Regions from separate parts of the Homo sapiens genome. Here regions 2, 3 and 4 are each reported to be linked to region 1. Evidence: microRNA targets listed by miRTarBase, many of them from high-throughput screens and not tested one by one. Region 1 holds a microRNA gene; each other region holds the end of a gene's coding sequence.
The links. Region 1 holds the annotated microRNA hsa-let-7b-5p (UGAGGUAGUAGGUUGUGUGGUU, at 3,366-3,387, shown strand). A microRNA usually pairs through its seed, bases 2 to 8, with sites in the 3' UTR of a target mRNA and lowers its output. Matches are read on the target gene's strand: a 7mer-m8 pairs with bases 2 to 8, a 7mer-A1 pairs with bases 2 to 7 and ends in A, and an 8mer does both.

Region 2: miRTarBase lists RCAN1 as a target of hsa-let-7b-5p. The part of its 3' UTR that is shown has no 7-base or 8-base seed match.
Region 3: miRTarBase lists DMD as a target of hsa-let-7b-5p. Seed matches in the 3' UTR shown: 8mer at 3,706-3,713.
Region 4: the mRNA of EIF2B3 is a reported target of hsa-let-7b-5p. The part of its 3' UTR that is shown has no 7-base or 8-base seed match.

What each region holds. Positions count from the first base shown.
Region 1 is chr22:46,110,326-46,118,179 of GRCh38, forward strand. MIRLET7B (microRNA let-7b) reads left to right here and starts at 3,361; the gene lies at 3,361-3,443. It overlaps LOC124905135 (collagen alpha-1(III) chain-like), which reads left to right. Exons shown (of 2, transcript XM_047441696.1): 2 at 1-3,603. MIRLET7BHG (MIRLET7B host gene) reads left to right here. Exons shown (of 5, transcript NR_110479.1): 5 at 1-3,603. It overlaps MIRLET7A3 (microRNA let-7a-3), which reads left to right and starts at 2,424; the gene lies at 2,424-2,497. It also overlaps MIR4763. RefSeq lists an enhancer at 452-985.
Region 2 is chr21:34,511,829-34,519,585 of GRCh38, reverse strand. RCAN1 (regulator of calcineurin 1) reads left to right here. Exons shown (of 4, transcript NM_004414.7): 4 at 1,330-3,144. The coding sequence ends at 1,502. It overlaps KCNE1 (potassium voltage-gated channel subfamily E regulatory subunit 1), which reads left to right and starts at 7,376. Exons shown (of 4, transcript NM_000219.6): 1 at 7,376-7,559.
Region 3 is chrX:31,115,837-31,123,690 of GRCh38, reverse strand. DMD (dystrophin) reads left to right here. Exons shown (of 79, transcript NM_004006.3): 79 at 1,761-4,469. The coding sequence ends at 1,772. Among named protein-coding and RNA genes, the nearest start is that of FTHL17, 48 kb to the right of the region's middle.
Region 4 is chr1:44,844,947-44,852,800 of GRCh38, forward strand. EIF2B3 (eukaryotic translation initiation factor 2B subunit gamma) reads right to left here. Exons shown (of 12, transcript NM_020365.5): 12 at 5,576-6,057. The coding sequence ends at 6,005. Among named protein-coding and RNA genes, the nearest start is that of PTCH2, 5.6 kb to the left of the region's middle.

The DNA.
Region 1 (7,854 bases):
CGCCCACTGGGCTGTCCTGCCCCACCCCCTTTTTAGCCTGCTGGGACCATGAGTCAGAACCCAGTAGGTGTGAGGGGACCCAGCCAGCCCAGGTGGCCAGTCCAGCCTGAGGGGGTGGGGGTCTCAGAGATTAAGTCAGGAGCCCAGAGTGCGTGCTTAGGGTGCAACCCACCCCACAGCCTCCCCCAAGGCACCTCCCGGGGGTGCAGATGGGGGCAGACGCAGGGACACTCAGGGTGGACCACCTGACTGGGAGCTGATCATGAGGTGTGCGACAGCCTGAGTCAGCCTCAGCTCAGAGGAGCTGGGATGGCCTTGATCTTCCCCCTCCGGCCACTCACCACAGCTGGGAGGGTCCAAGGAGACCCTCAGCCACTGTCCCTTCAGCCCTCACCCCACCCTGGCTGGCTCTGCCCGGACAGTCCTTAGGGACATCTTGGTCCTGCCCACCAGCCAGGGGACCCAGAATTGGAGCAGGGGAGCAGGACCCCCAGACCCTCTCATACCGCTTTTGTTCTGAGGCCTTGAGGGAACACGGGGTCTTCGCGACCCCAGGCGAGATGATGCTGGGACAGAGGAGGGTCGGGCTGCATCGGGGCCCTCCTGGTCCCCACTCCTGGGTGAGTCAGCATCTCAGTCTCCAGTTCTGGGTGGGCGGCACCAGGTGTGAGCCTCAGCGGTCTCCTTGCTGGCTAAGGACCTGGGATTTGCTCCAGTGCCCCTCGGGAGGGAGTAGGACACGTGCCCAGAGAGCAAGCAGACCCCCTCCCCGACCAACTTCTGAGAGCAAAGACACCTAGAGCTAGAGATTCAGCACCCCCTGAGCCTCAGTTTCTCCACTATGAAGTGGGATCCGTGATCTCAGCCTTACCAGGGCTGTGAGGATTAAATGGTCCAGCCCAGCCTGGGGCCTGCCTGGAGTAGGCAGCCTGCTCAGGATGGGCTGTGGAAGGAGGGCTGGGGTAGACCTTTCAAGTCCACTTGGGCATGGGGAGCTGAGAGCTAGCATGCCGTTTAACTTGGCAGGAAGCAGGCCGGGCGCAGTGGCTCATGCCTGTAATCCCAGCACTTTGGGAGGCTGAGGCGGGCGGATCACGAGGTCAGGAGATCAACACCATCCTGGCTAACACGGTGAAACCCCCTGTCTACTAAAAATACAAAAAATCAGCCGGGCGTAGTGGCGGGCGCCTGTAGTCCCAGCTACTCGGGAGGCTGAGGCAGGAGAATGGCGTGAACCCAGGAGGCGGAGCTTGCAGTGAGCCGAGATCGCGCCACTGCACTCCAGCCTGGGGGACAGAGTGAGACTCCATCTCAAAAAAAAAAAAAAAAAAAAAAAAAAAAGCTTGGCAGGGAGCAGGACATTTGGACCTCACTCTGCTGCCCCCTTGGCTGTGTGACATCCAGGTCACGTTGCCTCTCTGGGCCTCGGTCTCCTCACCTGTTTAAGAGGGGTTGACAGTCGTATCTGCCCCCTCAGCTTTTCCCCAGGAAGGTGGTAGCCACAATTAGCATTTGTTGAGGCTGACCCTGCACCAGGCCCAGGATAGGCGGGGCTTAGGGAGGCCCGTCTCTCGCCACGTTCCCCTGCTAGGGGAGCCCCGAGGCCCTCTCAGTGTCATCCTCATGCTACACTCTGTCCCAGCCCTGTGCGTCCCAAGCTAGGGCACTGAGTGTGCCAGCACCCGCAGGGACAGGCACTGGACCCTGGGTGGACCTGAGGGTCTGTGACTACCCCCCCAGCTGCTCTCCCCTAGAGGCCACTTCCCTCAAGGAAGGAAAGAACCTTCCCGCCACCTCCTGCAGTGCGGTCAGCTCAGGCCAGCCTGCACAGCAGGGCCAGAACCAGGGCCCCTGGGGAGGGATGCCTGCCTGCCCAGTGGGAGGAGACGGCACGCCCGTGAAGCCGCTACTCAGCCAGCCTGGGGGCCACGAGTGCTGCTTCTGGTGGCGCTGTGCGGGGAGGGAGGGGGCCGAGCAGGGTGGGCACTCGCATGCCTGTGTCTTGCTGGCCTTCGACAGATGACAGCCCTCCTCCTAGGGTCTCCAGTGCAGAGTTCCTTGGGGACATTATGGCCACTCCTGTCCAGATGAGAGGGAGCCGGCTGCCTGTGACAGCGTCGCAAAATGCCGCCAGGGCTTTCCCTCCCTCCTCCTTTCTCTCTTCCTCGTCCCTCTCTGGTTGGTGGTTTCCTGCAGGCTCCCGTCCCTGCTGGTGCTGGCCACAATGTCCCCACTCCCAGGGTTTCGGCGTCCCAGCCCCCTGCGCCCACCGCGCCTGCCCGCCAGAATCCCTGTGCCCTTGGTGCGTGTGGCCTGCCGAGCCTCGAGCCCCTGTTCTCCTCAGCCCTCTTTCCTCCCGCGTCCCCAGGAGGTGCCTCTGGAAGCCACGGAGTCCCATCGGCACCAAGACCGACTGCCCTTTGGGGTGAGGTAGTAGGTTGTATAGTTTGGGGCTCTGCCCTGCTATGGGATAACTATACAATCTACTGTCTTTCCTGAAGTGGCTGTAATATCTGCGGTGGACAGAGCGTCTGGAACCCTGGCTGGGAGCGGGCAGGGCCAGGTTTGGGGGCAGCCTTGGCAGCAGTCGGGGGCAGGGGCCGCCTACACTGAGAAGTCTGACAGGCCTAGGTGCCACTTGCTGTGTGACCTTGGACAGGCCCCTGATCTCTCTGGGTCTCAGTTTCCTCCTCTGTAAAATGGAGGCAAATGAGGATGGAAGGAGATGCAGTGTGGAGCATCGAGGGCAGAGGAGAGCTGAGCCGACCCCACCCTCTGCCCCAGCCGCACTGAGAGAGGCGATCCACGCAGCTGTTTGTCTGACCTCTGTCTCCCAACACTCCCCAACACTCCCCCCGCCATCAGGCCCAGGCTCATGGGTGGCCCTGAGCCGTACCCTCCACTGAGCACCAGGAGAAGGCACCGTGGGGCCAGGGGTGGCCGAGACGTTTGGAGGTCACAGGGCTGCGAGTATTGGCGTTGCCCATCACCCCAGGTTCCCAGCACGTGCCCCAGCCTGGCCAGCTCAGTGGCAGGGCCTCTGCCTGTGGAGGAAGGGAGGCCAAGGCACCTTTCCTGAGCAGGAAGTGAGAGGAACAGCTCTGCATACACTGGGTCCCACATGGCACAATCTGAAGGCAGACAGTGGCTCCTCTGTACCTGGGGAAACTGAGGCCCAGAGAGCCAGGGACTTCCCAAGACCAGCCAGCAGCAGCTGCCCCTTCCTGGGGTGCCATCTCCCCTGTCCCTCCTGCCCTGCGCCTGCCCAGCCCTCCTGCTCTGGTGACTGAGGACCGCCAGGCAGGGGCTGGTGCTGGGCGGGGGGCGGCGGGCCCTCCCGCAGTGCAAGGCCGGGCCTGGCGGGGTGAGGTAGTAGGTTGTGTGGTTTCAGGGCAGTGATGTTGCCCCTCGGAAGATAACTATACAACCTACTGCCTTCCCTGAGGAGCCCAGTGACACGACCCCATGGGAGGGCCGCCCCCTACCTCAGTGACACGACCCCACGGGAGGGCTGCCCCCCACCTCAGTGACCTGCAGGGGGCCTGAGCCGAAGCTGGGTGGGCATCTGGGAGCTAGATTCAATAAAGCTGTTCTGACCATGAACTTGGAACTGGCCCCTTTCATTCTGGAAGCCCAGGGACTGGGCTCTGGGGCGCGTCTGCTGCGGGACAGTGTGGAGGCCCCTGGCCACGAGCTGTTCCAGGTCATGAGACTTGTCTGCTCACGCCTCCCGGTGCCTCCAGAGTCCTCAGTTGGCTCCGTGCTGTACCCTGGGCTCAGGATCCCAGGCCCAGCCCGTTCTCTGCCCTCTCGTGCTGCCTTTGAGCCAGGCGGGCTGAACACCGGGACCCAGGCCCGGTGGAGAGGTCCCCACGGGGCAGCCACCAAGGCCCCAGGTCAGCAGCTCAGAGCACTGCCAAGTCCTGGCTCCTGAGGCCACCTCCGTGCCTTAAGTGCCTTGACCAAAGTCTGGACGTGCCTGTCCTTCCGTCCTCCCTCAGGACAGTTTCCAGGGCACCCGTAATTCCTCTGACAGACTGCCATCCCAAAAGTGCACCCATTCTCCTGGGAGGCCTCAGGCCCTCGTCTAGCAGCTGCCGTAGGCTGGGCCCAGTGATCCCGCCCTGGGCATGTGGGGTGGGCTTGTTCATGCCTGGCCCAGCACCGAGAGCCCCTGGTGGGGAGGGGCTGATACAGCTGGGCCCACACCTCCCCCACCCAAGTGCCCATCCTCGCCCCTCCTGTTGACCCAGGCCACAATCTTGGCCCAGATTCCCCCCTGTGCCCTCCTGGCCTGCCTTGGTTCTGCAGGCAACCCCAGCCCTGCATGGCCACGTCTGGGCAGACCGGCACCCCTACCCTGACACCCATCTGTGCCAGTCCTGCACGGCAAACACCTCAGAGCCCAGGCCTGCCTACCCTCCCGGAGCTGCTGCCACCCTGTGGGCCAAGGGCAAAGGGACGTGGAGGAGGGGCCCAAGGGCAGGGAGGGCTTCCTAAAGCAGGGACCATCTGAGCTGGGTCTTGACAGCTGCGTAGGAGTTTGCAGCTGGAGATGAGTGACGTGCCCCATGGTCCCTTCTCCCATCATCCTCTGGGGCCAGAGTGGGTGACACATGGGCACTGTCCAAATCCCCTTCTTCACCCCATAATTAGTCAGCAGCCACATCTGGCCACTTCTGTCCTCTAAACACCATTTCCATCCCTCCCCACTCCCACTGCCAGGCCTCAGAGTCTCAGAGCAGCCCCCTCTGTCTCCGGAGCAGATCTCTGCTGACACCCTTGCCTGCACTGCCTCCCAGCACCCCTCCCTCATGCCTGTGCTCACCTCCACCAGGACTCTCCTGCTCACCACCGCTCCCCCACCCCTCAGTCCACGGCTCAGACCCATCTCTGGCCACCGCAGCCCCTGTCTGTGTCTGAACAGACTGTGAACGTCCCGAGGAGCCAGCCTCTCCTCCCAGCCCCCATACTGTGTAGTTGGAGCAGGGTTTGGCCCTGCAGAGCTCAAGGCCTGGTCGGGGAGCTGCCAGGGACACACAGTGGCCATGTGTTGGGGTCAACATCACAGTGGAGCAGCCCAAGGGCTGGGGAACCCTAAGGATCCCTGGACCCAGCCCTGCAGTCAGAGGCAGCTTCCTGGAGGAGGTGATGCCTGGCTCACCCCACTTCCCTCCCTACCCTCCAGCTGACCAAAACCTTCCCTGCTGACTGGCCGTCCCTAGAGATGGGGTTGCCAAAACTCGCCCAAAATATAGGATGAGGGCAGCCTGTGGAAGTTCTGGGGGTGACAGGCCTAGATTGGTCACTCTGCTCACCAAACCTGTTTCCCATCTCGCAGTGGGGTCACCGTAGCTTCCACCTCCCAGGGCGCCCATGAGGATTTAAGCTGATACCAGATCAGAGTGCCCAGGGATGTGGATGAGTTGCCTTGAGAACAAAGTCCAGGGAGGAAAGCCGGGGACCAAGGACCTTCAGGATGGCCCCAGCTTCCCGGGCTGTGCGGGAGCCACGTGCCACGGACCCCTCCCAGCTCAGGCAGTACCGCCAGAGCACAGCCTTACCCTACAGAAGAAAGGTCGGCGTGGCCCTGTCCTCCGAGGAGATGAGGGCTCAGAGAGACTCGAGGGGGCTCCTGGGCTGTCCAGAGTGGGCCCTTTGAGAGACCCCTGGGCCCTAAGGTTCAAGTAGGCCACCGCTGACCTTGGCCTTCCTAGGAGGGATGCAAAGCCAGCCCACCACTTGAACCCGGCAGCCTGAGCACCGAGGGACAGGGCCGCCATCCAGGGCCAGGGCTAGGACAAGGCCAGCAAGGTGGCAGACACGGAGCATCTCGGCCGGGGGGCCTTTCTTGGGTCACACATCAGCACGGGGCACAGAGGTGAGAGCCCAGAAAGAGTCTTGTTTCCATTTCTTTTAAAACGGGAAGGGAAAATGACCCCTCCAATACTGAATATATAATGTATAATGAGTATATTATAGACTGGTGTAGATGATGGGGTGAATATAGCGCGAACCCAGCCTGGGTTCTGGGTGTCTTACCACCCCAGTCATGGGTGCGGTTTGTGATTTTGTTGTGAATTGTGGAGGAAGGGCCCAGGAGGGCCACATGCCCTGCCAGGGAAGCCATAGAGAGCCCTGCCCCGGGAGGTCAGTGCCTCCTTCAATGCCTGCGATCCCTCACCCTGCCCTGCTTCCCCCACCATCCGCCCCGCCTGGGCAGCCTGGGCCACTGCCCGCCAGCCACCCCCGCCTTCGGACTGTGCATTTCCCGACAGCGACACCGTGTGGCAGCAGCCCCCACCTCCGAGGCCAGCCCCGCCTGCACCCCCCCCCCACCTCCGAGGCCAAAGCTGTGAATAGGGTGACCCCTTCTGGGCTGTGGAAGCCTCGGGTTTGAGGACAATCCTGGGGAGGGACCCCAGGGCGCTTCCCGCTCTCCTGGCGTGTGTGTGTTTGCGGGGGAGGTGTGGGGGCCTCTGTACCCATCACAGCCACGTGCCGGGACCGCCGGCCATCGTCCCGAGCCAGCGACATGCCTGGCAGCCTCCCGCCCACCTACGCCCCGCTCACCACCAAGGAGCTGTCAGCATCACTGCCCCCAACGGCATCTGGCAAAACTGTTGGGGGTGAGCCAGAGGGAGCACCCCCGTCCCCAACAGCGCTGAGTTGAGAGCCACATCTGTCTCCAGGCACTGCCACCAGCAGGAAGGGAGGCCACCCTGAGCCTGGGAAGACTCCGGAGCTGGGTTATCTGAAGGCCGGGAGTTCAGGTGGCCCCAGGCAGAAGAGGTGGCACAGTGAAGGTCCACACATGGGAGGCGGGCGGAGTGGCTGAGCCTGAAAGTTGGCATCTGGGCCCACCAAGGACAGGCCTGCCATGTTTGAGCCCTGAGCTGAGCCTCCCCAGAGCCTGGGGGGAGGCTGGAGCCCCAGTGAAGGGCCTCAGATGCCAAGGAGGGAGGTCAGGCCCTAGGGCTAAGCCCCTGGCACAGACTCATACCCACACAGTGGCATTTAGTGAAATGGGCTCCTCTGACGTTGCCTCCTGAAACAGGCAGGGTCGGAGGGGTCAGGTCTGATGAGGCCTGGGGGCATCCCTGTGCCAGCTGGGTGAACATGGCTGGTCACTGTCCCATTCTGAGTTCAGCCTCTTTCTAGAACAAGAAGGGAGGTGGCACCAGCCAGGTCGCACATCTCAGATATCGGACAACTGGGGAGCTGAGGTGGACCAGGAAGGGGAAGGCTTTCAGGTCTGGCTTGCTCAAGGGACTCAGCTCCTACCCCGGCCCCAGCTGTTGCTGAGCCTGAGGGCAGGTGGTGCTGCCAGGTGCCTTGTGTTGGCCTCCCTGCATGCGTCCTGCCTGGTGGCCCAAGTTCAGCATCCACACTTATGCCAGCCAGTGCCCTATACCACCCTCACCCTTCCAAGGCTCCCACAGCCTTCAGGGCTGCCCAGTGTGAGAGCTGCTGTGAGTCTATATGGGTAGCTTGGTTTCTCTGATTGGGAGCAGCTTCCCCAGGGCTGGGAGCAGGACCCAGACAGTTGCTGTAAATGCTGGTGTGTCGGCCCCTCTGGTGCTGCATTGGTGACATCCAGGGCCTGATCTGCTTCCTGACAGTCCCCAGAGGGCCGCCATCCTCAGCCCATTTCATGAATGTGGAGACAGAGGCTCAGAGAGGTAGAGTGACTTTCCCAAGGCCACACAGCAGGCCGGGTACAGCTGGAATGGGCGGCCAGCTCTGTCCACCCCATGATCTGTGGCTGTCTTGCCTTCCAGGCTGCCTGGGGTTGGGAGAGTAATGGTGGCATAGGGGACAACAGGTTGTGTTCTGGGGTCCCTTCCCTGGGGC
Region 2 (7,757 bases), not on the chromosome of region 1:
CTCTACTAAAAATACAAAAATTAGCTGAGTATGATGGCATGCGCCTGTAGTCCCAGCTACTTGGGAGGCTGAGGCAGGAGAATCACTTGAACCTGGGAGGCGGAGGTTGCACTGAGCCGAGATCTTGTCACTGCATTCCAGCCTGGGCAACAGGCAAGACTCTGTCTCAAAAAAAAAAAAAAAAAAAAGAAAGAAAGAAAGAAAAAGAAAAAAGAAAAGAAAAGAAATCCCAAGCACAAAGCCCTGGAAGAAAACTGACCATGAGGCCACACCCTGTGGGTGGAGCAGGTTGAAGCAAACCTCCTGCCCCTATTTCAGATCCCTGCCCAGCAGGGCACCAATAACGATGCAGTCTCCATTCTTAAACATCTTTCTAGGTGACATGGGCTGGACAAGCATGTGGTGAGCCGGGTTCTCATTGCCTCGGGCACTCACTCATGCTGTTAGCTCCATGAAGTCAATACCTTTACCGTCTCCTTTACTGAGGAGGGAACTGAGGTGCACAGGGAAGCAGAATAAAGTGCCCATGAGCCCTGGGTACTAAGGAGCCAGGCTCAGAGCTGCCTTCATGAGCACCAGAGATGCACACTCTTCCCGTGGCCAGAGCGGCACCCCAGCGGGAGGCCCCAGTCCCTTCATTCTACATTGCCGGGTTTTTCAGTTGCAGAAAGCTCTCCCCACCCTTGCTGGACCAGAGTGGCCTGAACTTGGCCAACCTGGTAGAACTCAGGCTGACATAGAACAGCAGGACACTCCTGGTCCCGGGGATTAGAAGTTGTTCTAAGGAAAAGATGCCCAGGTCAAAAACGTTTCCAGAGCACCTGGCTCCGTGCAGCCACCCCTGCGTCTGCTGCAGGGCCTCCTGTGGCGCCCTTCCTGGGCGTGCACTGCGACCCTCAAATAGGAGCTGCATGAGGGAGGCCCAGGGTTCTGTTTCCAAATACGTTTCTTCATCCATCTTTTTCCTGAACCGAAGTTTCTCACATTCACACTTGAGGAAATGCTGACAGAAAGGGAGTTCTCTGGGTAGTTTAGATATCTGGTGGACATGTGAAGTATAACTAGAAAAATGCATTCCTTCTATACTTCTCATGTGCCTGGACTCCCAGAATGTTTGACTAAAAACAGAGTCATGCACAATGGAAATCTCTCTTTTTCTGAATGAGCTAGCAAAGAAATACAAACCCAAAATATGTCTGGCTGTGTCTCTCAGCCCAATCGAATGGTCACGAGCAGCTGGCCCAGCAGAGCCCTGAATGCTCTTTTATGTTTGCCTTTTGACTCCCAAGGACTTGTCTGAGTGACCCTGCGATTATTTTCCCTCCTTAGGGGAAAAGTATGAATTGCACGCAGCGACTGACACCACTCCCAGCGTGGTGGTCCATGTATGTGAGAGTGATCAAGAGAAGGAGGAAGAAGAGGAAATGGAAAGAATGAGGAGACCTAAGCCAAAAATTATCCAGACCAGGAGGCCGGAGTACACGCCGATCCACCTCAGCTGAACTGGCACGCGACGAGGACGCATTCCAAATCATACTCACGGGAGGAATCTTTTACTGTGGAGGTGGCTGGTCACGACTTCTTCGGAGGTGGCAGCCGAGATCGGGGTGGCAGAAATCCCAGTTCATGTTGCTCAGAAGAGAATCAAGGCCGTGTCCCCTTGTTCTAATGCTGCACACCAGTTACTGTTCATGGCACCCGGGAATGACTTGGGCCAATCACTGAGTTTGTGGTGATCGCACAAGGACATTTGGGACTGTCTTGAGAAAACAGATAATGATAGTGTTTTGTACTTGTTCTTTTCTGGTAGGTTCTGTCTGTGCCAAGGGCAGGTTGATCAGTGAGCTCAGGAGAGAGCTTCCTGTTTCTAAGTGGCCTGCAGGGGCCACTCTCTACTGGTAGGAAGAGGTACCACAGGAAGCCGCCTAGTGCAGAGAGGTTGTGAAAACAGCAGCAATGCAATGTGGAAATTGTAGCGTTTCCTTTCTTCCCTCATGTTCTCATGTTTGTGCATGTATATTACTGATTTACAAGACTAACCTTTGTTCGTATATAAAGTTACACCGTTGTTGTTTTACATCTTTTGGGAAGCCAGGAAAGCGTTTGGAAAACGTATCACCTTTCCCAGATTCTCGGATTCTCGACTCTTTGCAACAGCACTTGCTTGCGGAACTCTTCCTGGAATGCATTCACTCAGCATCCCCAACCGTGCAACGTGTAACTTGTGCTTTTGCAAAAGAAGTTGATCTGAAATTCCTCTGTAGAATTTAGCTTATACAATTCAGAGAATAGCAGTTTCACTGCCAACTTTTAGTGGGTGAGAAATTTTAGTTTAGGTGTTTGGGATCGGACCTCAGTTTCTGTTGTTTCTTTTATGTGGTGGTTTCTATACATGAATCATAGCCAAAAACTTTTTTGGAAACTGTTGGTTGAGATAGTTGGTTCTTTTACCCCACGAAGACATCAAGATACACTTGTAAATAAAGCTGATAGCATATATTCATACCTGTTGTACACTTGGGTGAAAAGTATGGCAGTGGGAGACTAAGATGTATTAACCTACCTGTGAATCATATGTTGTAGGAAAAGCTGTTCCCATGTCTAACAGGACTTGAATTCAAAGCATGTCAAGTGGATAGTAGATCTGTGGCGATATGAGAGGGATGCAGTGCCTTTCCCCATTCATTCCTGATGGAATTGTTATACTAGGTTAACATTTGTAATTTTTTTCTAGTTGTAATGTGTATGTCTGGTAAATAGGTATTATATTTTGGCCTTACAATACCGTAACAATGTTTGTCATTTTGAAATACTTAATGCCAAGTAACAATGCATGCTTTGGAAATTTGGAAGATGGTTTTATTCTTTGAGAAGCAAATATGTTTGCATTAAATGCTTTGATTGTTCATATCAAGAAATTGATTGAACGTTCTCAAACCCTGTTTACGGTACTTGGTAAGAGGGAGCCGGTTTGGGAGAGACCATTGCATCGCTGTCCAAGTGTTTCTTGTTAAGTGCTTTTAAACTGGAGAGGCTAACCTCAAAATATTTTTTTTAACTGCATTCTATAATAAATGGGCACAGTATGCTCCTTACAGAAAAGTTGTCATTTTATTTCTAGAATAAATCTGTGAACCTTCTAAATTCTGCAGTTTAAAAGGCTTTTAAACCTTTTTAAACATTTTAAATTCAGAAGGAGACATCCTTTGTCAATTTGAGCTTAGAAACTCCTAATTCTGTGCTGTGGTTCATGGAGAGTCCACCACACTAAGAATGCATCACTTGCAAAAGAAGAAAATGGATAAAACTGAAATCAGAACTTCGAGTATTTCGTTTGTACAGGTAGATGCTACTGTGATGAAACCCCTGTTCACCAGCACCTCCACAAAACAGCAATGGTTTTGGTCATTTGAAGAGCTTTCTTTTCTATTAGAAAAGATGTCCATGGAAGATACTAAGTTATCTTCAGAAGATGCATCTGTAAGCCTTCTGTTTAATCTCTGGCAGCTTTTCCCCTGAAAGTCTCATTTCAAATGGTGGTGACCTTCCTGGGAAGCCCACAAAGGCCTAAGTAACCCAGTGTTTATTTGCTGAAATCTAGGAAATGACATTAATCCTGATCAACATTAGCATTAGGCGTTTATCTATGAAAATTCACATGCTACTTTTTTTTCTCTGTCTTGAGAACCATGATCCTGTCATTTCCAAGAGTATTTGCACATTTTCAAGCCATATATGTTCAAGGTTTAATCGTGCTGGAAAATCCACACTTCCACCAAGTTGGTCAAATCTGATTATTGGACAGATTCAGGCATTGACCCCCACTAAGGACAGGCAGGAAATATTTCCAAATAGAGACTCTCAACAGGTCCCCTTAGATAAAGGAGGGAAAAAGTCAGTGGTCCCACTGCCAGTGAAGCCAATAGACCTTAGAATAGAAAATACAAGTCAAGGAAAAGGCTCACTCAGGACAGCCTATTTCTTCTGAGTTGTTCTGTGGAAGCCTCAGCTGAAATTGTAAAACCAATAATGCACAAAGTTTCTGGTTCCCAGGCTGATGGGCCTGAAAGTAATTGAATCATGAATGTGCCCAGGACCCACGCATTGCTTTGTAGGAGAGGGGTTCAGTCAAATGTGAAACAACCGACATTCAACAGGCAGCATCATGCAGGATGCACACTTTGCCATTGATTGAAAGTGTTTCTTCAATAGGCTTTGATAGAATATGTTACTAATCTGATGGGAAACAGCTTAGGGCCATGCAAAAAAAGAAAATCAGCCCCTGGAAATGAGTGGCTAAATCAAAGCGAAGGGCAGTAGAAGGAGAGGAGCGGAGCAATTCATGGAGCTATTCAGACACAAGCTATAAACATTGATTTGAAGTCAGCAGGCATTTGGGATTTTACATTTCCAGAATATTGTGTGTGAATTACTGCCCACAGAAGATTTGGGTTTTCAGAGAGCTTTAATTTTCTGTGAAATGTGCAGAACTCACTACAAAATAAATCGATTTTCTCATATGTTAAGTTGCAGGAGATTAAAAGCACTCTATGGACGTGTTATGATCAAAAGTGAACGCGCAGCCAAAGTCTGTCACACTTCACAGTGCCCGTAGAACCCGCAGAAAGTTTGCCTGGGTATCATAGGTACATATCCAGTAACATTCACCCAAAGGTCAGTGACTCAGGTGGAAGCTGCATACATAATTACCCTAAAAATTATTCAGGAAGAAGGTCCACTATGAATAACAAGTACTCTTCCCTCCTGCCTCTCTGGCCTCCTGATTCTAAAGTAGAACAGGGAGTAGAACGTGGAGGAAACTTTTCAAGTATATCACCACTCTTGGCAATCCTTAATTCACATCTGAAATTCTCACTCCGTGACTCACCGAAAGTTACATGGCAATCAGGTAGATGGATTTGCTTCTCACATACCTCATTTTCTTCCACAATCCTTCCCTGCTGTTCGTGAAAGGTCATTTCAATCATAGCTATGTTTATGAAAGACAGAAGGAAATTATTCACAAGTGATTGAGGTGTGCTGCCTGTGCCCACCGTTTCTCCTTCTTTCAGGATTCTGATGAGGGACTCGGTGACCCTTCTACACAGCGAACGAGTGCCAAGTAGATGCAGTGGCCACTGCTCAAATCCCTCTTTCAAGAGTGTCAGGGCCCTCCTGGCTGACATTTGTACTCTGGCAGCGCAGACTTTTCAGTGTTTTTAACTTACCATGTTGTCTTTTCTCTGCCTAGAAAATGATCTCATTGTCCCAGCCCAGCCCTGCTAACCCCACAATGAGGTCCACGAGGTCCTGCTCACCCCTGTTCAAATTCCAGCAGCTACCTCTGTGCCCAGCCACAGAACATGTTTCTAGGGGCTGCTTTTCTTTTCTTGAGTGGCCCTAAGCTGTTTCTTACCAGATTAGTAATATATTCTATCAAAACCTACTGAAGAAACACTTTCAATCAGTGGCAAAGCGTGCATTCTGCACAGTTCTGCCTGTTGAATGTCGGTCATTTCACATTTTACTGAACCCCTCTCTTACAAAACAACGTGTGGGTCCTGGGCACATTCATGATGCAGTGACTTTCAAACCCATCAGCCTGGGAACCCAGAAACTTCTTGCATTATTGGTCACAATAAGCGCTACTGAAATGATTGACTCTTTAATATTTCTCCTGCAGGTGTCTATTAGGAATGTCTCTTCCCCCTAAGAATCGTTGCCAGCTACTCCCGCTGGGTCTCCCATCATGCCCCCTTCTTTTCCATTGTATGGCATATTTTCTTTTTTATCGTAATTGTTAAATTGTTTGTCTTCCCTGTTGAAACATAATTTGGGTGGAAGTGGGATTCCTGGTAGCCAATGGCTCATAGTAGACGTTCAACACGCAAGTGGATTGGATAGATGGAAGGATAGATGGGTAGATGGAAAGTTGGATGGATGGATGGATGGATGGATGGATGGATGGATGGATGGATGGATAGGGATTTTGGAGGAAGAGGAGTGAGCAGTCACTGAAAAGAATAGAAAAATAATGAGGCTTGCTCCCTCTCCCTAGTCAGAAGAGCCAGTAAGCAGCTTAGAGCTTTAATCCCACAAATTGTCAGGCAGCTGGCGCAAGAACAGGGAAAAAGAGAGAGAGAGAGAGAGAGAGACCCTGTCTGTGGTAGGTTATGGTCATCAGTGAAAAAGAACAAAAACCTTTGTTTTAAAACTCTCCTCAAAACAGATGATTGGCTAGAGGGTGCGGCACAAAGGAACTTGTCAGGGTGATGGAGACATTCTGTATCTGGATTGAGCAATGCAAGAACCTGGGTAAAGACACAGTCATGGTAACAGCTGTATACATCTGTTGAAAACTCATCAAACTTATCATATTTAGAAAGGGTACATTTTGCTTCATGTAAAGTATGCCTCAATAAAGTGTACTTGATTTTAAAATCAGGATAAAGGAAAAAAACATTGATCTTGGATAATGGGCAGGGGTTGGGGAGAAGGTCTTAATTATCATCATATCCTTTTAAAAACGTTTTTCAAGTGTGTGATGCTCTGATGACATTCTTAAGACACAGCAAGGCAAAGCAGTATCCCAAATGAGAGAGTGAGCATTCCAATAAATATTTTCTGTAAGACACTGATATGTCTATGACTATTTGCTAAATTTAAAAATCAACTTGGACCATATTTACTCCCTTAAAGTCTAATAGACGACTAATTTCTTCTATGTTCAGAACAAATATGTTGCTACTTTAAGAACAGCATACATAGGTGTGGTCGGCCCTCTGTGTCTAAGGCTTCTGCATCTGTGGATTCAACCAACAATGGACTGAAAATATTCCAAAAATAAAATAAAATTAATGAAACAACAACAAAAATAAAACAAATAAAAAAATGCCAGGTAACAACTACTTACAAAGCATTTACATAGTATTAGGTGTTAGAAGTAATCAAGAGATGATTTAAATCACCATCTATGATTGGCTGATATGCATAGGTTATATGCAAATACTATGCCACTATATATAAAGGACTTGAACATTCGCAAATTTTGGTATCTGCAGGGGATTCTGGAACCAAACCCCATGGATACCAAGAGACAACTATATATAAAATACTGAAAGAGGCATGGAGAGTGATTTTCAGGCCTCTACCTAAAGCCCTGAATATTAGAAATTACTGAATTTCTTCTCAGGAAGGAAATTACGCCATAAACCAGTGTTGCCACACACCCAGAGAACAAGATGACCCGACGCCCCAGCCTGGTCATGCCACATGAGCTGAGCAGTGGGTAGGCCACTGAGCCAGTGATAGAAATCACAAATTACAAAACGTCAGAGTACTTTCTGGAAATAAGCCTTCCTCTCCAGGGAACAACGCATTTGACACTTGACTGGGATACACTACCGGATCCTCCGAGGGTGATGGTTCTCAAGAAGGCAGAAGCAATGGTGACCAATAGACCTCCTTAAAGGCTGAGCCGCTGGGCACCTTCCTACTCCTCTCGACCGTGCTAGGATGACTGCAGCAGAGTCCCCGAGTCCTTTGATGCAAGGGTCTAGGTGAGTTCGAAGGAGAGCCATACTAGGCCAGGCAGAAAGGCCCATGGTGATGGCTGTCCACCCTGGTCAGGGGAATTCTAGGTTCAGGCCATGCGGCAAGGTCACCTTGAGGGACATGCTTTGCTCTAAGCTCAGCTTAAGTGTGTCTGAACCCCCCTCACTTCTTCCAACTGCAGAAGCACATGGAGAAGGGGGAGA
Region 3 (7,854 bases), not on the chromosome of region 1:
TGTTAACCGTAAAGATCGCTAGTAATTAAAAATTGGCAGTTAGTCCATCTATCTTCAATTTATGCATGAATAATTATGCAGATTTCCCAGGGTTGCTGGACAGCCAAAAATAGATACAGGGGAAGCCCTCCAACTTGATAGCAGCAGTTATATATTTGTACTCTGAGCTCTAAGGAGCAGCAAAGGCCCCACTGTGTCGTCTTCCTGTGGTTTTTATGGCACAGAAAGCCAAAAATGATTTCAGTTCTTCACTGAGGGCTGCCAAACTATTGGCCCACTTTATGAATAGTTGCATATGCTTTGTTAAAAAATTTTTATACTTGCAGTCTCAGCCAAAATCCAAAGTGATTTTCTAAAATATAATTAATACTCCATGAAATTCTTTGCACTAATAAAGCACAAAAAGATAGATATACAAACTTGGTCACCTTAATAGAAATGCCTGAATGACATTAAACTTTTAATAAGTAAGTCTTCAGTTGATCTGGTGCCATCACTGTTTAAGTGCCTGCCCGTGAATCCGCTTCATTTTGTAGAGAAGCTATATCTCTTGAAATAAATATTAAAACAAAATACTCTCCCTAGTCTATAGCTTTAATTTTTATTGGGATATCTTTAATTTTTATTGGTATTTTTAACAATTATTATGGGAATCTGTAAAGTTGATACATGGCAAGGTAGTAATAGCCTAGTAAAGCATTTCAGTTCCAAAGACAATACTTGAATAGTGGAAGGATTTACCAATGTGCAATAATTAAAATTAGCCATGTAAAACTATGGGACATAGACGAAAAGGCAAGCCATAAAGTAAGTCTCAGATTATCTTACTCTAAATCTGAATTTTGCTACGAAGTACCCAGGGACATTGTGCTGTTCTTTTTCTCCGTGCTGGGAGATTCGTGCTAGGTCGTGCTGCATTATTAGTAAAAGGCTATTGTGATAGTTAACCCTCATTTAGGAGGAGCTCTAAGATGGATTCACAAAATACCCAAATGCATACAATACATGTGGGTCACCTTATAATTAGGGTCTAGAGTAATTTGGAATGTAAAGCAATTTTTATTCTGAGGTTTCCTAATTCAAATGTTAATAGTGCACCAAAAGGTCAATTCAAGAGTTTATTATTATTATTTTTCAACCCAAGTAAAAGCAGAGAGAAAATAGCCACCTCCACCATAGCCTCAGAAGCAAGCCAACAGCCTGAAACAGCTTTGAAATGAAAAGTTGGTGTGGCGGTGATGGTGGCAGTGATAATGGTGACGATGGTTGGGTGCTGGTGATGGTAGTGGTAGTTGTGAAGGTGGTGATGGTGGTTTGATTGATAGTAAAAAAAATGTTCGTTAATACAAGTAGAGAGTAAGTAATCAATCAATCACTCATAGCCAAGGTGGAAAAGATGTATCCCATCATGGAATATTCCTGTTCTGATAGAAATCTTGTGCTTATCTATGGAATTCTTTTGATATATATTTACATTGGGAACCTGAATGTAGCTTGACATTTTTCCATGTAAACACCAGTAGCCTGATCCAACATTAAGCTGATACTAACAAACAACGTGTAATGGCTTCATTAATAAGGCTTTGCTTCTTCCTGGAAACTGGTGAAAAATCAAACCTTGTTGTGTACACCCTCGATGCAGCTTCTGTGTTGTCTTCACCCAGAAATGGGGAATGATTTCCCAAATGGCAAAGAAACAGAGTGATGCTATCTATCTGCACCTTTTGTAAAGTCTGTCTTTCTTTCTCTTTGTTTTCCAGGACACAATGTAGGAAGTCTTTTCCACATGGCAGATGATTTGGGCAGAGCGATGGAGTCCTTAGTATCAGTCATGACAGATGAAGAAGGAGCAGAATAAATGTTTTACAACTCCTGATTCCCGCATGGTTTTTATAATATTCATACAACAAAGAGGATTAGACAGTAAGAGTTTACAAGAAATAAATCTATATTTTTGTGAAGGGTAGTGGTATTATACTGTAGATTTCAGTAGTTTCTAAGTCTGTTATTGTTTTGTTAACAATGGCAGGTTTTACACGTCTATGCAATTGTACAAAAAAGTTATAAGAAAACTACATGTAAAATCTTGATAGCTAAATAACTTGCCATTTCTTTATATGGAACGCATTTTGGGTTGTTTAAAAATTTATAACAGTTATAAAGAAAGATTGTAAACTAAAGTGTGCTTTATAAAAAAAAGTTGTTTATAAAAACCCCTAAAAACAAAACAAACACACACACACACACATACACACACACACACAAAACTTTGAGGCAGCGCATTGTTTTGCATCCTTTTGGCGTGATATCCATATGAAATTCATGGCTTTTTCTTTTTTTGCATATTAAAGATAAGACTTCCTCTACCACCACACCAAATGACTACTACACACTGCTCATTTGAGAACTGTCAGCTGAGTGGGGCAGGCTTGAGTTTTCATTTCATATATCTATATGTCTATAAGTATATAAATACTATAGTTATATAGATAAAGAGATACGAATTTCTATAGACTGACTTTTTCCATTTTTTAAATGTTCATGTCACATCCTAATAGAAAGAAATTACTTCTAGTCAGTCATCCAGGCTTACCTGCTTGGTCTAGAATGGATTTTTCCCGGAGCCGGAAGCCAGGAGGAAACTACACCACACTAAAACATTGTCTACAGCTCCAGATGTTTCTCATTTTAAACAACTTTCCACTGACAACGAAAGTAAAGTAAAGTATTGGATTTTTTTAAAGGGAACATGTGAATGAATACACAGGACTTATTATATCAGAGTGAGTAATCGGTTGGTTGGTTGATTGATTGATTGATTGATACATTCAGCTTCCTGCTGCTAGCAATGCCACGATTTAGATTTAATGATGCTTCAGTGGAAATCAATCAGAAGGTATTCTGACCTTGTGAACATCAGAAGGTATTTTTTAACTCCCAAGCAGTAGCAGGACGATGATAGGGCTGGAGGGCTATGGATTCCCAGCCCATCCCTGTGAAGGAGTAGGCCACTCTTTAAGTGAAGGATTGGATGATTGTTCATAATACATAAAGTTCTCTGTAATTACAACTAAATTATTATGCCCTCTTCTCACAGTCAAAAGGAACTGGGTGGTTTGGTTTTTGTTGCTTTTTTAGATTTATTGTCCCATGTGGGATGAGTTTTTAAATGCCACAAGACATAATTTAAAATAAATAAACTTTGGGAAAAGGTGTAAAACAGTAGCCCCATCACATTTGTGATACTGACAGGTATCAACCCAGAAGCCCATGAACTGTGTTTCCATCCTTTGCATTTCTCTGCGAGTAGTTCCACACAGGTTTGTAAGTAAGTAAGAAAGAAGGCAAATTGATTCAAATGTTACAAAAAAACCCTTCTTGGTGGATTAGACAGGTTAAATATATAAACAAACAAACAAAAATTGCTCAAAAAAGAGGAGAAAAGCTCAAGAGGAAAAGCTAAGGACTGGTAGGAAAAAGCTTTACTCTTTCATGCCATTTTATTTCTTTTTGATTTTTAAATCATTCATTCAATAGATACCACCGTGTGACCTATAATTTTGCAAATCTGTTACCTCTGACATCAAGTGTAATTAGCTTTTGGAGAGTGGGCTGACATCAAGTGTAATTAGCTTTTGGAGAGTGGGTTTTGTCCATTATTAATAATTAATTAATTAACATCAAACACGGCTTCTCATGCTATTTCTACCTCACTTTGGTTTTGGGGTGTTCCTGATAATTGTGCACACCTGAGTTCACAGCTTCACCACTTGTCCATTGCGTTATTTTCTTTTTCCTTTATAATTCTTTCTTTTTCCTTCATAATTTTCAAAAGAAAACCCAAAGCTCTAAGGTAACAAATTACCAAATTACATGAAGATTTGGTTTTTGTCTTGCATTTTTTTCCTTTATGTGACGCTGGACCTTTTCTTTACCCAAGGATTTTTAAAACTCAGATTTAAAACAAGGGGTTACTTTACATCCTACTAAGAAGTTTAAGTAAGTAAGTTTCATTCTAAAATCAGAGGTAAATAGAGTGCATAAATAATTTTGTTTTAATCTTTTTGTTTTTCTTTTAGACACATTAGCTCTGGAGTGAGTCTGTCATAATATTTGAACAAAAATTGAGAGCTTTATTGCTGCATTTTAAGCATAATTAATTTGGACATTATTTCGTGTTGTGTTCTTTATAACCACCAAGTATTAAACTGTAAATCATAATGTAACTGAAGCATAAACATCACATGGCATGTTTTGTCATTGTTTTCAGGTACTGAGTTCTTACTTGAGTATCATAATATATTGTGTTTTAACACCAACACTGTAACATTTACGAATTATTTTTTTAAACTTCAGTTTTACTGCATTTTCACAACATATCAGACTTCACCAAATATATGCCTTACTATTGTATTATAGTACTGCTTTACTGTGTATCTCAATAAAGCACGCAGTTATGTTACAAAAAAGTATTGACTGGACTGCAGTACTTTGTTTTTATTTTAATTTAGTTGTTGTTACTTACTTACTTACTTTTTAAATAGGTAATACATGCATATGAGTAAAAAACTATAATCCAGAAAGACAGTGAAAACACTCCTAACTACCCCTTCCCCCATATCAATCAATCATCCTCATTGCTCTATGAGTAGACATTATTAATTTCTTATTTAGTCTTCCAGAGGGTCTTTCTTTATTAATTATTATATAAGCAGTTAAAATAATATATATGTTCCTATTTATTTTTTTCCTATTATTATTTCATAGGATATAGCATTCTCTGCACCCAGTTATGCACCTTACTTGTTTGTTTGTTTAAATTTAAATATGGACTCAAGAAATCTTTTCATTTAAATATATAAAATGCTTTCTCATTCTTTTTTATAGCTGTATAATATTTCATTATATGTTCATAGGATATTTTATTTAAGCAGTTCCCTTTGGTGGGATATGTAGTCTGTTGTCAGTCTTTCTTTTGCTATAACAAACAATATTGCACATTTCTCATTACATCATTTCATTTGTGCATAAACAAACAAATCTGTGGGATACTTCCTAGAAGTGAGATTGCTGGATCAAAGGGGGTAAGCATTTGTAGACTGGGAGATGATACATTTTGTGCAGTGATTGATTGATTGATAGTCATAGTGTTTGTTTGTTTGTTGTGTTTTTTGTTTTAATAATGACAAGTATATTAATTAAGTCAGTTTGCAGTTCATACTTTGCTTCTCAAGAGAATTTCATATCACTTCTATTCTTAATGTCACCATCTAAGAGGATGCATGAGTGAGTAGTAAGAAAGAGACACCTAAAATGATGTCTCACAACTGGTTCTGGGGAAGAAGAATCCCTTACCATAGTCAACCACCACCATGGGGAGAACCTCTCCTTTGCCCCTGCCCTGCTCTGTTTCTTGCCCTAGCTGCAAAGGAAGCTGAGAAAGTGGGTAGCAATGTCAGCACTTCTTAGGGAGAGGCTATCTATCTTTACCTATTCCCAAGGTTCATGGATGGGGTGGGCGGGGTTCCCCAACAGTGTTCAGATACTGGTGAGCCAAAGGAATAACATAAGTCCACCAGGTGCAGCCTATCCTAGTGATTTTGGAAATAATAGGAGATGAGATGATCCATCTCATTAGAAATGATGTTTGTTAGTAGATGTGGCATCTCTGCTGTGAATCAATCACTTGCTAATTTTTTGAAAGTAGGGTGATGATGCTGACCTAAGTGACTACCACATTGAAACACTTCCCTTGACATCCACACATACCAAGAAAAATTTTCATCCTATTTAAATAAACAAATCATTTATCCTTCCCACCATTACCCGAACCTACCTTTGTTTGAAACACCCAGACTGGCTGTTTTGGTGACACTTAAGGAGGTAACTGAGGAATCTTCAATACTTCACCACGTCTAAGACAACTGTGTGTGGATGACTCTGAGGAGGGCATTTGGTTTTCCATTCCATACTTGGCACACACTAGAAGAGACAGAATTAATTCAGTTAAAAATTAAAATGAATCGAGCTGGCACAGATTATGCACCGGCAAGCAAAATGTGTGTTTGTTTGGGAGAAAGCACCAAGACTAATGGATGTGTTCTGTAGAGCTGCGATGGGATTTCCCTGAATTTGTAATGCTCTAATGGTGGAATGAATACAAAGGCAGGCACTGGCGCACTTGCAAAGACTTTGCCTTCAAATTAAGTGTAGGAAGGACACAAATCAAATTCTTTCCCACAGTAGCAAAGCCATTGGAGTAGGAACTATAAATATGTTCTTCAATGCCCCTTGCACGTCAGTGTACTGTGATCTCATGGACTTAGCTGACAACACAAGAGTGGCAGCATGCCCAACATTCCATAATAAACAATATTGTGTGAATGTGTAAAGTTTGGGGATGTTTGTTTGAGAGTAGCTTTTGTGTACAGAAAAGGTTACCTACAGTAACTTGAGGTTTAAATGTTATATGTACATATGTGTGTATGTACATGTGTGTATTTTATATACATTCAGGATTTTAGCTCTTCCATAACTTTATTTTGAAATAATTCAAACAAGAAAAACTGAAACAAAAGAAAAATTGCAAGAACAGTACAAAGAAAGAACCCACATATACCCTTTACCCAGGTTAATGAATTGTTTACATTTTGCTTCATTTACTTTATCGTTCTCTCAATGAATAGATGATAGTTTTTCCTGAACCATTTTAAGAATAAGTTGTAGACATCATGCCTCCTTACATTTAAATACATCATGTACATTTCCTAATATCTAGGACAGTCTCTTGTATAACCATAGTACAATTATCAAAATAAAAAAATTATATATAGCTATCATCTACTCCACAGTCCATATTCAACCAAATATTGTCAATTGTGCCAATGATGTCTTTCATCATTATATATATTTCCCTAGTCTGGACTCTAATTCATGATTTCATGACATTTAGTTGTCATATCTCTTTAATCACCTTTGATCCGGAACAGTGTCTCTGCCTTTCTCTGTCTTCAAAGACCTTCACATTTTTAAGAGTACAAGACAGTTACTTTGTAGGATGTGCATCAATTTGGGTTTGTCTGATGTGTTCTCATGGTTTAGATTCAGGGTATGCATTTTTGTCAGGAATACTACACAAACAATGATGTGTCCTCAGCATGTGATACCAGGAGGCATATTCCCATTCTTGGTGCTGTTAACACTGATCATTTGGTAAAGGTGGTGTCTGCCAGGTTTCTCCACTTGGTATACATTTTAAAACCTAAGTTTTCATAAATCTTTAGGTTCAACTTAGAAATTTCATTTTTAGATATATAAATGTAGACAATTTGTATGAAGTAAGAACAGTCACTTTTAGTGAGCAGACTTAGCCACGTTGAGTAGTCTGAATTTTTTCGTTCTAAGCTGTATTTATACACTTAATGTGCTTTATTTTCAAGCCTATCTAATATCTCACAGGGAAGACCAACGCCAACCAACAGCACCTCCACCATACCTAACTCACATATATCGAGACAAACATATAAATATAGTGAATCTCAAGTCCTCTGAAACATTCCAATAGCATATACTGTATGAGCTGAGTCCAACTTTTTTTATTCATTTTGAAATAATAACATGTGTAAAATTACACATTTTACATTGGAACCTAAGACATCTCTCCAATTTGCTAATATGTCAAATTGCCACAAACATCTTAAGCACTTTAAACGAACACAGATTATGCCTAAATTCAACATAAAAGTATTAAAACCAAGGGTTAGGTTTACTCCACCATCTCTTTGTTTCATTTTAAAACTTCCTAGGCTTTCAAGACTTATTTGATAAGGTGTATATTAAAATGTGACCCAGGTG
Region 4 (7,854 bases), not on the chromosome of region 1:
GTCCCTCTATTAAACTTTCAACTATCCTATCTGAGTGTGCTGTTTCTATTGGGTTCCTGATTGATAAACCTCAAGTGGCAGAGTAGGGTAAAATCAATATTCCAATATGTAAAGTTTGAGAAAGAGAAAATGAATCTACAATAAGCTAATTTTTCTAACACAACTACTATTATCTCTGGCAAATTTCTTGGTCAGTTCTTCCAGACTTAAAAAAAATCATTCCATCATAAATATTTCATGTTACTATGTAGTTTTTGTAATCAATCATTTGGAGAATATCCTTAGGACAGATTCCCAGAAGTGGGTTGTTTGGGTCAAAGAGTATGAACATTTTTATGGCTCTTGATACACACTGCTCAACTGATTTTTTGAAAGCTTGTGCAAATTAACATCATCTCTAGAGCCTCAGTCCTGGGGAAGAGGAACATTTAGGTTGAAGGGGTGAACACCTAACAGGTTTGCCATTTCCATTTGTCCATTCACCCAGAAAAATGCCTATGGAGGAACTAATATATGTATGATGCTGTTGGCCAAACAGTAACTGCACATGAAAAGCAGCCTACCTGAATAGCACTTTCTTCTCCCTGTTATAGAGTGTGTCCTGCTGAGCATAAAGTGGCATGGTAGCTCATGCTTGTAATCCCAGCCCTTTGGGAAGCTGAGGCGGGAGGATTGCTTGAGGCCAGGAGTTCAAGCCCTGGCAACATAGTGAGACCCCATCTCTACAAAAAATAAAAAATTAGCTGGGTGTGGTGGCGCACACCTGTAGTCCCAGCTACTTGGGAGGCTGAGGCAGGAGAGTTGATAGAGGCTGCAGCGAGCTGTGATTGTGCCATTGCACTCCAGCCTGGGCGACAAAGTGAGACCCTGCCTCAAAAAACAATAATAATGATAACATAAAAAATTTAAGGTTAAAAAGAACTGTACCCCTAGCAAGTCTCTGAAATAGAAACAGCCTCTAACTTAAGTCTGTATGGGCCCCTAGTTTGCTCTTGGGGCAATAGCTGAAGACAGGGAGTGGCCTGGACTCAGCACTGGTTGTCATCAGGAGTACAACTCCCGATGCTATGCTTTAAGTAAGTCTTAATCTCCTTCCTTTTTACCAGACTCTGCAAGACATAAGGTCCATGGATAAATAGATTTGTAACCACTTGGGCCTTGGGACTCTGCTTTCATCATAGGCCCATCACTGCTAACAATTGTGACAAAGTCCACCATTTCTATGGATGCTTCCAAGGCCAAGTCTGTCTATTAAGGAAACCTCTTGCCTTATAGTTCAAAGACTAGGATGGAAGAAATGGGTCTACAGTTTCCAGCCTTTCCAACCTAGGGCCTAGTGCTGTCTGGCTGCTCCAAGCTACAAAATGACCTGTCTTCTCCCAAACAAAATGGTTTCCTGAGCCCAGCTAAGCTCAGCCAGAGCCAAAGCCATAGACCCCAGGAATAGGAAGGGATAAAGAGGCTTCTCTTCTCTTTCTGCAAGCAGCCTCCTTTATGATAGAACAGCTTGTTTCACTGTCATTTCCACTGGTCCTGGGTACGTGTTTTGGGCCTAAACTAGAGATATTCTCCAAATAACAGGATAAAAGCAATCTAATTAAATCTCATTACTGACTCATGAAACAAACGTCTTGGGATCTCCTTTTTTTAAATTTTTTCAATGAGACAGGGTCTCATTCTGTCACCCAGGCTGCAGTGCAGTGGCATGATCTTGGTGCACTGCAGCCTCTACTGCCCAGGCTCAAGTGATCCTCCCATCTCAGCCTCCCGAGTAGCTGGGACCACAGGCGCGTGACACCACGCCTGGCTAATTTTTTTGTATTTTAGTAGAGACAGAGTTTCACCGTTTTGCCCAGGCTGGTCTTGAACTCTGAGCTCAGGCAATCCACCCGCCTCGGCCTCCCAAAGTGCTGGGATTACAGGCATGAGCCACCGCGCCCAGCCTTGGGATCTCTTATGTGTCCATTCCTTTGCTGGGTTCTGGTGTTGCAGGGTACCTGCTTTTTAGAAGTTCATAGCCTGAGGGGGAGCACAGAGACCACAGGGGAAACCACTGAGTTGGGGGTACTCAGGGATGTTTCCAGAAGTGAAAGGAACTGGATGGGAGAGGTGGGAGGATGACAGAATCTAAAAGGAAAAGGAATGGCTCATGGTCTGGATCTTTCATTTGCTGGTTGTGAGATCTCAGGGAAGTCACATAATCTCTGACATTAACATAAGGATTAAATGAGATAATACATATGGCTGAGGAACAGTGCCAGGAAAAGTGAGGCAGCCCACACTCACATACACACAGTGCTGGGTAAAGTGACCAGTCTGGCTTCAGGGGTGGGTTCATGTGGGAGTTAATTCATGGTGGAGGCAAGGCAGGCTTGCTTTCTCTGGCATTCCTCTAGGCTTCTCACTCGCCAGCTTTTGGCTGCTTCTGTTATCTAGGCCAAGCAGAGTCAATGACCCTGAGATGTGGAGGAGGGAAGTGGGGGTCCTGGGCAGCCCCATCACCACCTGTTATATTTAGGGGCCAAGCCTGGGTATGTATGCTCCTTCCCTGTGGGCAGGTTGAGGCCAATAGCACCTATCAAGTATTTGTTTGTTTGAGATGGAGTTTTGCTCTTGTTGCTCAGGCTGGAGTGCAGTGGTGCCATCTTGGCTAACTATAACCTTCACCTCCTGGGTTCAAGCGATTCTCCTGCCTCAGCCTCCTGAATAGCTGGGATTACAGGCGCCCGCCACCACGTCGGGCTAACTTTTTGTATTTTTAGTAGGGATGGGGTTTCATCATGGTGGCCAGGCTGGTCTTGAACTCCTGACCTCAGGTGATCCACCCACCTTGGCCTCCCAAAGTGCAGGGATTACAGGCGTGAGCCACCGCGCCTGGCGTACCTATCAAGTATTTGGTGCCAGGGCTGCAGCCAGAGATTAGGGAATGGTCCTTCACTTTAAGTGTGGGGGAAGGAGACAGGCTAAGAACAAATGCAGCCTCTCTCTATTTATCCATGGCAGAAAGGCCCCGATGCAATCATCCTGGGTAGTGGCAGATGGCTCAGGCCAAGGACAGGTCATACTGGCTTCCAGTAGAATGTGTTCTCCTGCCCAGTCTCTCTCCCTCTGGGTCAGCTTCATTAGAGCAGAGCTTTCTAGACTTTCTGTCTGGGTGGTCCTTTCCATGGGCCTCCCCCTTCCTCAGACACATTTAACTATTTAGAAAGCTGCATACAAAGGCCTGGTTTATGTACCTCCTTAGGAGTAGGGATAGCTGTGGATAAAGAAAGTGTATCCCCTGCAATTCTCTGGAAATAGAAACAACTTCTCAACTAGGCCATGCAGGCCCTAGATTCCTGTTGGGGCTACAGCTAAACACAATTTCCCTCTCTCCACTGAGTATGGAAGTGGGATGGTAATAGTAAAGTAGTGAAGAACTGGGAAGAAGTTCGACCTTTGGCCTTGGGGAACAGCTTGGAGGGCAATCTTGGCAGTCTTATAGGCTCACAGGAGCTTATGGGCCCTCACTTCAAGTATGGGGAAAGGAGAGAGGCTAAGAACCAATGCAGCAGCTCCCCATTTATCCATGGCAGAAGGCCCCTGATGCAATCATCCTGGGTAGTGGCAGTCTTCTCGGCTCAAGGAACTCTTGCCAGCAGGCAAGGATGAATTGTAACTGGGGGATGGATTCCTGGAGTAGCAGCTGTCAAGTTTTGTCTGACCCGGCAAGCTCCCGGAACCCTGTTCCTCAGCACATCCCCAGGGTCCTCCCTGATTCGGCATTCGAGGTCCCCTTTCTCCTCTTCCTCCACTTCCCTCATTGAGCATCACTGGGAGAGGCAGGGCAGACCCTATTAACTCTTCTGCCTGCCTTGCTTTTCTGATTTCTGTCCATGGAGAGGTGGCCGGCCAGTGGACATTCAGTTGCTCACTATGTTTCAGACATACTCAGCCCCTCTGTAGCTGCTACCAAAAGAAAACAAAAACTGTCCCTGCCTTCTGGCAGACAAACAGGGCAAAGAGAAGAAAAATCAAAGCATCTTGGGCACCCAGCCAGTCCTGGAACTGTCAGACAATAGCAGCAGTGTCCTGAGCTGGGGGCTGCTCCCAGCTGGGACTCAAACTCAACAACACCTTCCTCTGGGAAAGCTTTTACCTTTTGTTTTCTCCAGCTCCTTCCTTTCCTTGATGCAGAGGCCGTTCCATGGACTTGTGCAAAGGGAAGGCACAGGAGAGGTTTTTCCTCTGTCTCACTGTCAGGGGTTCTAAGGGCTCCATGGGGAAGGACAGGAAAGGGTACATAGGAGGGCTCTGAGACAGTTTAATCAATGCCCTTTACTCCTCCACCGCACTTTCCCTCCCAACCCTTTTCTCTGCTCAAGGAGCAATCTTCTGGCTCCTTGGGAGACCCTAAGGGGAAGAAAGCTCTGGGAAAGAGGACAAAACCTGAGAAACAGAAGGGCCTTTAACATTCAAACAGTCGAACTTTCTCATTTTGCAGATGGAAACACTCAAGGTCAGAGAGGAGAGAGTGATTTGACCCAAACCAAACAACATTACAGAGGACAGATTTTCTTCCACCCAGGCCAGGACTCTGTCTCCAGCACCATCTAGGCCCCACCAATTTAATTTCAGTTCCAAAGGGGACCATGTTGGGCACCACCACAGCTCTTTATCCCCACATCCCTCTCAGCCCTATTGGTTTCAACCACTTCTGCCGGGCCATTTCAGCTCCTGCCTGATTAGGGCAAACTTTCAGGAGCCTTGTTCTGACCAGTGGGAGCACCAGGGCTCTCAAGAAGGCTGACAGAGGTGGAGATCCCCCAGGGTAGAAATACTCACGGAGTCTCTCACAAGTTCTATGACTAAGATAGGCAAGATTACTCAAGTAAACTTGAGAGCCTTGAGGTTTTTGAAGCAATGCAGAAACCAGTATTTCAAATAATTCTTTCTAATTACTGCCACCCACAGTGAAGACATCAAGAGAAGCCTTTACTTTGATAATTCTAGGAGGTGAAATCTCACCCCAGGAACCACTTTTATCTTCCACCAAACACCTGCAGGCTGTAAAAGCAATGCAGGGAGAGAGCAGAGTGAATGTGTGTTTGGGAGCAGGGGTGGTGGAGGGAAGGTGGATAGGCCTCTAGAAGGGCTGTGAGTATGGAAATTTCATTCCTCAATTATCTGAAGCAGGAGAGTCTGCAGAATTAGGATATAAAGGAGTGCAGCTGGAGGAGAGTCAGAAGGAATTTCAAGCCATGATACAGGTTCCTGGCTCTTCCTTCCCAGGTTGGGCAAACCTCAGTGAGGTGAGGTGCAGCGGGGTCTGGCTTGGCTCAGACCATGGCTCTTCATGTTCTTATCTCCACTAGAACCTGTGGGAATAGGCTTGTTGGCTAGGCAGGGGCTGCCCCTGCTTCTGTTCAGTCTCCAAGGGATATTAGTTGAACTAGGGAAAATGGCTAGAGGCTGGGAGGAGAGGGAGTGAATGGTGAGCATGGAGGGTGGGGCTGTGGGTGAGGTGGGGGAAGGGGCTGGGAATCTGTATGGTAGGTATGGGAGCAGAGTCCTGGGCTGATGCTCAGGCGTGGCACTGCCAGCAGCTAGGCCTATGGGTCTAGAAAGGCTGATTAGGATAAGGGACTGAAGTACTCCCAGGTCCTTTTAGGTGAGGGATACTTTCAGGACTGGGTTGGGTCAGCCAGTCAGAAAGTAGCCTTCCTAGGAGCTTTACATTGGACAGCTGCTGCCCCACCGATACATCTTGGCACACAAGAGTTAGGCCACTGTATCTGTCCTGTCCCACACACTTGCTCCAGATGATCTTTACCACATGACACATGAACATACACTGTGTACACCTGGAGCCCACCTGACATGGAGCTTTGGACTGCTCCACAAGTCTCCAGCATGCCTTTGGAAGCCCTTCTTTATTGGGAAATAAATACAGAGTTAAACAGGTGGGCCGGCCAACATCTGTGGCTTTGGAGGCCAAAAGGAAGGAGTCTGACTTGCTCAGAACTCAGATCTCCATGAGCTGGTCATTCCCCACGATCACCTCATTCACTCGTTTAGCTACAAAAGAAAAGGAAAAAAGTTTTCTGAGAACTGGCAGCAAGATGACATTTCAAACCCAACTGCTTTTTTTTTTTGGAGACCGAGTTTCGCTCTTGTCACCCAGGCTGGAGTGCAGTGGCACAATCTCGGCTTACTGCAACCTCCATCTCCCAGGTTCATGCGATTCTCCTGCCTCAGCCTCCTGAGTAGCTGGGATTACAGGCGCCCGCCACCACGCCTGGCTAACTTTTGTATTTTTAGTAGAGATGGGGTTTCACCGTGTTGGCCAGGCTGGTCTCGAACTCCTAACCTCAGGTGATCTGCCAGCCTCAGCCTCCCAAAGTGCTGGGATTACAGGTATGAGCCACCACGCCCAGCCAAACCCAACTGCTTCTAATTCTGTGTTCACAAAAATTTATTTCTCTACTATTGTGGCTGTGATCTTGAGAAGCTCTTGGAAATAGGGATATGAGAGAGAGAGCACCTTCCTATGCAGGAGGATGGGACCAACTGTCTATATACCTGGCTGTGGTGAGGCTTTAAATAGGAGAACTGAAACTGGGTCTTAAAGGGTGAATAGTTTCTACAGGCAGTGATGGAAGGGATTCTAGGCTGTTAGAACAGCAAGGGCAAAGACAGTGAGATGGGAGAAAGGGGACCATGAAATACTGTGGTGTGGCCAGAGAATAGGAAATGAGGGGATAAGGGTAAGAAATGAGGCTAAAAGGATAAACGGAGATAAGAAAGGGCAATACCTCATATATAATATGGAAATAATGACACCTACTGCATAGGGTTGTTGTGAGAATTCAATGAGTTAAAGGTAAGTGAATGCTCAATAAGTTGTGGCTATTATTATTTCTATAAAGGTCAAACCCATAAGGCCCTCCATGACATCTTTGCCTACCTCTCCAGCTTCATTTCCCACTATTCTCCATTTTGCCAGTAAGCCATACTGTTTTAATCCCTTTTTTTTTTTTTGAGATGGAGTCTTGCTTTGTCACCCAGGCTGGAGTGCAGTGGCGCAATCTTGGCTCACTGCAACCTCCGCCTCCTGGGTTCAAGTGATTCTCCCGCCTCAGCCTCCCCAGTAGCTGGGACTACAGGCATATGACGCCACACATGGCTAATTTTTTTTTTTTTTTTTTTTGTATTTTTAGTAGAGATGGGGTTTCACCATGTTGGCCAGGCTGGTCTGGAACTCCTGGGCTCAAGTGATCTGCCCTGCCTTGGCCTCCCAAAGTGCTGGATTACAGGCGTGAGCCACCGCACTTGGCCCTGTTTTATACCTTTGAACTTTGGCACAACCCTCTGCCTAGAATGCTTCCCCCTCCATTTTTTCCTGTTGCACTCTTACTACCCTATGTGCCCTAACGTAGCACCTCTAATATGCGATGCCTTCCCTTTTGCACTGTCCATTTCCTGCTTTGTGAAACCACTGTACCTAATATATATCTCTATTCCTACATCATTATACCACTCTCCTCTACTTCACTATAAGAACATTGAGGGCGCTGGGCGCGGTGGCTCATGCCTCTAATCCCAGCAGTTTGGGAGGCCAAAGCAGGTGGATCACCTGAGGTCGGGAGTTCAAGACCAGCCTGGCCAACATGATGGAACCCCATCTCTACTAAAAATACAAAATTAGCCAGGCATGGTGGCGCATGCCTGTAATCCCAGCTACTCGGGAGGCTGAGGCAGCAGAATTGCTTGAACCCAAGAGGTGGAGGTTGCAGTGAGCCGAGATCGCAGCATTACACTCCAGCCTGGGCAACAAGAGTGAAACTCTGTCTCAAAAAAAAAAAAAAAAACAAA